Linked DNA regions of Homo sapiens: regions 2 and 3 are each linked to region 1. Evidence: fine-mapped expression QTL. A gene starts in region 1. Each other region holds a variant in brackets. All regions are shown on one strand. Distances are from middle to middle. Region 1 holds the start of NUS1 (NUS1 dehydrodolichyl diphosphate synthase subunit). Region 2 overlaps NUS1 (NUS1 dehydrodolichyl diphosphate synthase subunit). Region 3 has its middle 54 kb from the start of NUS1.

What was found. PIP is the estimated chance that this variant, and not a neighbour inherited with it, causes the effect.
Region 2: its variant is fine-mapped to the expression of NUS1 in whole blood (INTERVAL, PIP 0.90).
Region 3: its variant is fine-mapped to the expression of NUS1 in whole blood (INTERVAL, PIP above 0.99).

The regions. Positions count from the first base shown.
Region 1 is chr6:117,673,936-117,676,697 of GRCh38, reverse strand. It overlaps NUS1 (NUS1 dehydrodolichyl diphosphate synthase subunit), which reads right to left and starts at 1,229. Exons shown (of 5, transcript NM_138459.5): 1 at 613-1,229. The coding sequence starts at 1,027. LOC101927919 (a long non-coding RNA gene) reads left to right here and starts at 1,414. Exons shown (of 3, transcript NR_110854.1): 1 at 1,414-1,601; 2 at 1,863-2,051; 3 at 2,616-2,762.
Region 2 is chr6:117,700,725-117,703,486 of GRCh38, reverse strand. The region is part of intron 3 of NUS1 (NUS1 dehydrodolichyl diphosphate synthase subunit); the gene reads right to left. Among named protein-coding and RNA genes, the nearest start is that of NUS1, 27 kb to the right of the region's middle. The variant T/AT (reference allele first, on the strand shown) is at 1,625.
Region 3 is chr6:117,728,052-117,730,813 of GRCh38, reverse strand. No RefSeq gene overlaps it. Among named protein-coding and RNA genes, the nearest start is that of NUS1, 54 kb to the right of the region's middle. The variant A/T (reference allele first, on the strand shown) is at 1,113.

The sequences.
Region 1 (2,762 bases):
GGCAAATCAGTTAATGTTTTTAAACCTTGGCAAGGGTATACAAATACCATCTACATTACTGCAGTATTATAACGAATAAGAGATTTTTTATTTATTTTTATTTATTTATTTACTTATTTGAGACAGAGTTTCGCTCTTGTTGCCCAGGCTGGAGTGCAGTGGCGCGATCTCGGCTCACCACAACCTCCGCCTCCCGGGTTCCAGCGATTCTCCTGCCTCAGCCTCCCTAGTAGCTGGGATTACAGGCATATGCCACCACGCCCGACTAAACTTGTATTTTTAGTAGAAACGGGGTTTCTCCATGTTAGTCAGGCTGGTCTCGAACTCCCGACCTCAGGTGATCCGTCCGCCTCGGCCTCCCAAAGTGCTGGGATTACAGGCATGAGCCACCGCGCCCGGCCAAGGGATATTTTTAAAATGTTAAAAAGCTACTGAGTCAAATCCAGAGAATTAGTAGGTGTTCAATAAAGCTGATCTCCCTTCCTCGAAAGCGCTAGCGCTGTGATTTGCAGAGAGGCCGCGGCAACTCGTGCCATGGGCACCACCCGCCAGACCAGCGGTCTAGCGGTCCAAGACGCCTCGGCCACCCCCCACCACCGCACCGGGCCTCACCTTGGTGGTCGTAGACGCTAATGTAGGAGATGCCCACGGCCATACACCACACCACGAGGCTCGCGATGTCCGAGAAGCTGGGTTCCTGCTCCACCTCGGTGATCACCAGGCCCATATGCACAGGCAGCTTCTCCAAGGAACGACCGTCCGCGCGCCAGCGCATCCGGTGGTGTGCGGCTGCCAGGCACGACCCCCCGCGCGGGTGCCGGTGGTGACGGCGGTTCCTGCCGACTGCCGGGGGCTTGCGGAGCGTGAAGCCGAGCGGCGCTAGGACCGCGGCAGAGGCGGCGCGGCAGCAGCGCCGCCAGATCCAGTTCCAGGTGCCGAACCGAACGCGGAGCCAGGAGGTGAGCGTGCGGTGCAGACAGAGCAGCGCGTGCAGCACCCGCCACACCAGCTCGTACAGCCCCGTCATACTCTTGTGGCCCTCAGACACCCCCTCTCCCTCCCGCCCACTCCCGCAGCGCGACGGCTTTTTATCCGCCCCTGCGGCCGGCGCGGGCCATCGCTCCGCGTCCCCCCGCCCCCCGAGCCCGAACCCCTTTCCACTGCCAACACCTCACCTCGCCCCCGCCGCCATCTTCCTCCTCCCTTGGCAGCCCCGCCCCCAGTAGTACATGGACAGTTCCGATTGGCCAGCGTGGAATTCTGACGCGGCTTCTGGGTCCGAGAACGTGGCCCGTTCCGGCGCAGTGAGGGAAGGCGCACGCCTGCGAACTAGCCGGGCCGATACCGCGGGCGCCCCCTGGTCGCGTGGAGGGCGATGAGCGAACGACCCGGGACTTGTCTGAATGGGACCCCAGCAAGGCACACGTGGTCTTCAATGCGATGGGCGCTTCCAGGGGACCCGGCGTCCCTTGGGTCCAGGAAGTCTTATACTGTCTCCTCTCACGGCCCCGACAGAAACGGTTTCTGAGGAGTAGAAGTGTCCTAAGTGGATTGGAAATTACAAATGCCGGAAAGAACCTAGGGATGGAAAGCAGCCCTCAGTAAGTGTTGATGCTGGGAATCCACCAGGGTTTCCAAAAGTGTCCTCAAAGGCTGGAGTGATCCTGCTACTGTCCTTTATTCAGCCTCCCGGCTGAGGCTGGGAGCGAGGCTCTTTAGCCATGTTCCTGAAACACCCCTCTACCCATGTCATTCTCATCTAAGGTATCCTTTCCTGGCTGTACATTGCTTAATAGAGGCTCTACAGCTTGGCAGTCCAGTCACTTAATTCTTTTTTTTTTTTTTTTTTTTTATTCGGCAAGACTTTGACCAACCGCCGTGGGTTAGGTTTACAGTGGGGAAAAAAAATAGAAATTGTGCCTGACTTCAATGACCGCCACTATTTGAAGCAAACTGCCCATCCAAGCCTTATCATCCCCTTTAACACCCTAATGTTTCTGTCCATGTGGACTTCGACGTGGTCCTCTAGAATGGTTTTGTACTTCCCCGCGGTAAGTCTGTACTGTCTTTGCCCTTTTTGTTCAAGCTCTTCTCCTGAATTCCTGATTCCCGACTTGGTATTGCCGACATTCCAACCCATTTCTCAAGGTTTATCCTACATGCTACATCCTCTATCATCATATATATGTGTGTGTGCAACAATAATATTTATATTATTTGCATTTATATTTATATAAGTATATATATAAAGATTAGGGAGGTATTACAAAAATGCAACTGTACACATACACACGTATACACACATATTTACACACGTGTGTGTGTGTAAACAGTTGCGTTTTTGTAATACCTACCTATTCTTTGTTCGCTAAAGCCTCTTTTTCCCCCTGGGAAACATCTGTTCACGTCTTGGCTATGTGACTTAATTTTTCTAACATTGTCACTTTTTCAACTAGTCTCATTTTGGTTTCTAAGACTCATTTAACTTTACTTTAAAAGTTGAATCTCATGTCCATCTCCCTTTCGCAGTGCAATTTTCCTCCCTTTGGCAGTGCAGCCTGAAGAACTGAGGGCTGGGCACCAGGCACACCCTTCACACACTTCTTTCTCTCCAGGTCTCCTCTGCGGTAGCTCCTCTGATGATGGACAAAGAAGGAGAGGCGAAAGGCCATGATCAGGGAAGCCTACAGTCTTCTTCCTCACTGCCCATTGCTGTAGTTTATGCAGCTACATGATGCTTGTTAAGGAAGCTCCCTAGACAC
Region 2 (2,762 bases), 27 kb before region 1:
GTTTTCTTCAGAAGTTTTATCTGTATGTCTCCATGCCCCACCCCCAACTCTGTAATACATACTTTAATATCTATGCTCATTCCAAATGTGGAAGTTTTCTCAAAAGTCTGTTTAACTTGATTGATTACCTGATAAGAAAGGGTAACCCACCTCCCACACTATACCCAATAGGTGCCCCCAAAATCACATGTATCTTTTAAGACTCAATGTAGGTGTTCTCTTGGAATCCTGGGAAAGTTACTACAGTTCTAAAGGTGTGACTGCTTGATTCTGGCCACAGAATTGAATAACTTCAGAGACGAAAAGGAAATTTTAAAATATCTATTCTCCTTCCTTCCCTCATGCACCTCATTTTACAGCTATGAACCCAAAAAGACCAACTCCTAGCCATACATCACAAATGTCTTCCTTGGTCCCCAGAGCCAGAGCAGCCTCAGAGAGGAAAAGGAGACCAAGCATCTGCCTCAACAAGGACAAGGTCAATTTTTATCTCTTTCATGAACTGGTTTCCATATGAGACCTGACTTGGGGAAAAAAAGGACAAGGGTATTTCAATAGCTTAAAAATAAAATTTGAAGAGTACAGAAAAAAGATACTATAATCCAAGAGACTAAGGTTCCAATAGTTGTTAACATCCTCAATTCTGCCACTAACTTGTCTGTTATACAACCTCTCCAGTGCTAAATTCCTTCATTTGTCAAATAAGGAAACTGGATCAGGCAGTCCTGTCCAGCAGTACTATTGAAAAAATTATTTCCATAACAAAGTCCTTCTAAAAGTCCATACTGGTAGAGTGAATGGGCCAAGCAGAGGAACACACATTCCTGTATTACCTAAGAAGCAATAAATTATCTTCCATAAAAAATGACAAGAAGGAACTCCAAACCAATAGTGATGTAAAGAGGGTGGCAAATCTTCTCTATAAAAAACATGTTAAATTGGACAAAACCAACCATTCAAGAACACTAGATACTGACCAAAGGCGGACAATTATTCTTAAAGAAAACAACAAAAAAAAAGCTAGAGCTTTCAGTAAGAATGGCAAAGGTCTATGGCCTTCTTGCCTGGGACTGCTCCCAATGCCCACCCCAATCAACTGGAGAGAACTTACATTTTACCAGTATAGCTCTGACAGCAAAAATTAGATGATTTGCTACTTGCTGCCAAAAGATACGGACTCAATCTGGAACTGGAGGGTGTAGGCAAGAAGGAAAAGGAACAATGAAAATCCATGGTTTGACAGTTAAAGGTGGGAAATTCAAAAGAGAACAAATAGGAAAACCCACAGCTTTACTTGCCTGAGGTTGTAGCCCCAGTTAATACAATGGCAAGAAATTTAACAGTGAGATCCAGGAAATAAGGGCTCAGATAAACTCTCACATATCCATGGCCGACTGGGAAATAACATACATACTAGGAGGGGAAGCAGGGTAGGGGACAGGGCAGGAAGAAAGTCCAGTGAAAATCAAAAGCCAAGGAAACTTGAGAACTGGTGGCAACTTTAAATTCAGTTTCCAATACCAGAAATCATGGAAGCCTTACAAATTTAAGGTATCTAAGCATAACCAATGTGGAAATCATTGGCTTACCACTAAGCTATGTAGACATAAGCCAGACTAAAAAA[T/AT]TAAATAAAAAAAAACCTGAGCAGAGACAGCAGGAGTAATCTTTATTTATAGACAACATGATCGTGTATTTAGAAAATCCTAAGTCTCTACAAAAAGAGCTACTAGATTAGGTGAACTTGTATCTTAGGAAGGTTGCAGGATATAAAATCAATATTAAGAAACAAGTGTATTTCTAAGTATTAACAAACAACCTGAAAATTAAGAACATAATTCCATTAACAACAGCATCAAAAAGAATACCTAGGAGTAAATTTAACAAAAGAAGTAGAAATTCTATACCCCGAAACTGCAAAATATTATTTAAGAAAATTAGAACCCGGCCGGGCGTGGTGGCTCACGCCTGTAATCCCAGCACTTTGGGAGGCCGAGGCAGGTGGATCACGAGGTCAGGAGATCGGGACCATCCTGGCTAACACAGTGAAACCTCATCTCTACTAAAAATGCAAAAAATTAGCCAGGCGCGGTGGCGGGCGCCTGTAGTCCCAGCTACTCGGGAGGCTGAGGCAGGAGAATGGCGTAAACCCGGGAGGCAGAGTCTGCAGTGAGCTGAGATCACACCACTGCACTCCAGCCTGGGCGACAGAGCGAGACTCCATCTCAAAAAAAAAAAAAAAAAGAAAATTAGAACCCAAATAAATGGAGAAATATACTATGATCATGAACTGGAAGACTCAATATTGTTAAGAAGGCAACTTTCCCCAAATTGAGCTATAGATTCAATTCAATCCATATCAAAACCCCAGCAGAGTTTTTTTAAATTAGAAAGCCAATCCCAAAATTTGTAGAAAAATGCAAAGGACCCTGAATAGACACAACAACTTTGAAAAAAAAAAAAATCTTATTCAATTTTTTTTTTTGTACACAGTAGCCAGCCTCACTTCCCTGCTGGCTCACTCCCCCATTATCTTTCCCAGCCTCTAGCAACCATCCTCTACTCTCTATCTCCATGAGTTCAATTGTTTTAATTTTTAGCTCCCACAGGTGAGAACATGTGATGTTTGTCTTTCTGTGACAGGCTTATTTCATTTAACATAATGGCCTCCAGTTTCATCCGTGTTGCTGCAAATGACAGGATCTTGTTCTTTTTATGGCTGAATACTACTCTGTGGTCCATATGTACATTTTCTTTATCGATTC
Region 3 (2,762 bases), 54 kb before region 1:
CCGGAAAGGGGCATGAAAACACCTTCTGAGGTGATAGAAATGATTTATGTCTTGTTTTGAATAATGTTTACACAAGTATATGAAATTGTCAAAACTCAGAGAAAAAAACACAAGATTCATGGATTATATTTAGGTTAGTTATACCTTAAATTATATTACATGTTATATCTCAAGAATGTTGATTTTAAAAGAATCAACCCGGCCGGGCGTGGTGGCTCATGCCTCTAATCCCAGCACTTCGGGAGGCCAAGGCGGACAGATCACCTGAAGTCGGGAGTTCGAGACCAGCCTGACCAACATAAAGAAACCCCGTCTCTACTAAAAATACAAAATTAGCCAGGCATGGTGGCACATCCCTGTAATCTCAGCTACGCGGGAGGCTGAGGCAGGAGAATCGCTTGAACCCGGGAGGCAGAGGTTGCAGTGAGCTAAGATCGCACCATTGCAATCCAGCCTGGGCAACAAGAGCAAAACTCCGTCTCAAAAATAAAATAAAATAAAAAAAGAATCAACCCATAGGCTCTCCCAATTCTTTTATTCAGAAATGTATTATCACTTCGTTCTGGTCTTACCTTTATTTTGAAGATAAGGCATAACTCACTGCTCTCAAAATTCTGTGTTAAACCCTGACCAAAATTATTACAAATCTGACCTAACCCAGAGAAGCAGTAATAACCATGATATGCAAGATAATTGTTTTTACATCTGTGTATGGGTGACTGAAATAAGGATCTAGCCTAATGCAAGGAGAATGGAGAAAATGCTTTTATCAAATGTCCATCATGTACATGCACACAATGTTTGAACACAAACATGGTTGTGATGCTGCAATTACACAATGTGGTACCCTGGTTCTTTGGTGACTCTCAAAGTTGTCCTTTTATAGTCTCCTCCCCTTGAATTTCACCTGGCCCAGTGACCTCTTTTGACCAACAGAATAAGGCAGAAGCCCTGGCAGCTTCTGCTTTTGTACTCTTGAAAGTCCTGAGCTGCTACATAAGAAGTCTGGTTACCCCATTGTTGACACCACATATAGAAGCCCTATGGAGACACCACGTGGAGAGGGAGAGGTCATTAGATTGCATGAAGAATTGAGGAACCCAGTCAAGAGT[A/T]AGACCAAAGACCCTAAATATATGACCTCAGCAGAATCACTCAAGCCAGCTCCTACCATTAGAGACTAGTTAGTGCAGGTACCAGACATGGAAGTGAGGAAACCATTTTGGACATTCTAATAGACATGATACGGGGCAGACATTAGTCATCTCTGCTCTTCCCTCTTTGAATTCCTGACTCACAGAATAGTGAGAAATAATAAAAACAGTTGTTGTTTTAAGCCAGTAAACTTTGGGGTACTCCATTATGCAGCACTAGATAGCTGAAAGACACCTAATGGGATAAGCTGCCAAGGGAAAGCTGGGGCCAGGAGAAGGGGGTAAGAGGCAATATGAGAATGAACAGAAAATCAAAGAACAAAGGAGATCAAGGCAGATACATATAATACTGAAGAAACAGGAGAATCCCAGAAACACAGAATTGTGCTTCAGACAATCCTTTCTACCTGTATGATGCCTTTAGCCTGCCGCAGCAAAGAGGTAAAATATCACTAGGTCAAAGGATGGTACTAGGGCAGAAATGCCTAAAAAGCTATTTCTGCCAGCTTGATTATGAAACCTAACCCATACTGACTTCTTTAAAAGTCATTTTTGGTGTACACTTCTGTATTGAGATTCTCCTTATGGTTTCCAGCTAAGCTATAAAATTGACATTGCCTTAAATAATCCCAAATGATTCTCTAGATGAGGAAGGTGTTCCTTAAAAAAATTATACATTAAAATAGTGCACTCTTATTATTTTTATATATCTGTAACATATTAAGCTACAGATTCATTTGCAAAATTTTGCAGATAGCTTCACTCTACATCTGCTAGGCCAGCTGCACCATCTGTATGTGGTGCTATTTTGAGATCCATACTTAAGCAGCAGATAAAGGATACATGAAGCTTGCAGTGGCTGAGCTGTCTGGACCTGGCTGCACTTTAGAAGGCAGAGTCTTACAGGACTGACTTACTAATAATGATGAAGTTAAAAGCACTACAGAGTAACAAAGTATCGGCTGCCTTTTATTTTTGATTTTGCAAATGCCCCCATTTCCTTATCTGCAAAATGGGAATTTTAATGGTACCTTCCTCATAAGATTGTTATGAGGATTAAATAAATGTCTAAATGCTTAATGTCTGGCATGAAGTAAAGCTTCAATAATAAGTTTATCTATTATATAATTTCCTATATATGTCATATTATTCATGCAACAAAAAATATTATATCATTTTATCTTAAATTTCAAGCAGAATTTGTTACCTTTGGTGTTATAATGATGCAAAGACACTAGCTAGCTTGTGACAAAGCTGCTTACATGTTTCAATTACTTTTTACAATCTGGTATAGCTTGAAAAGATAATCAACACCTATAAGTTTAAGGCTATACAGGATGTTTCACTTTTACCATCTCTGAGTCAGAAATTCTGTTGGATTAATAAACCTTGAACTGCTAAAAAACCATCATGAACTAAGATGGATACCAAGAACCATTATAGCTTTTATAAGCCTTTCAACTGAAAGTAACAGAAACCAACACTGGTTCTTTCAAGTAACAAGGGAATTTATCGGAAGGATGTTGAGAGCTCACATTATTGATGGGATGCTGGCAAACCAAACTTGGAATATGTGCCAACAAAGGCAGCGCTGAAGAGCAGAAATAGCTG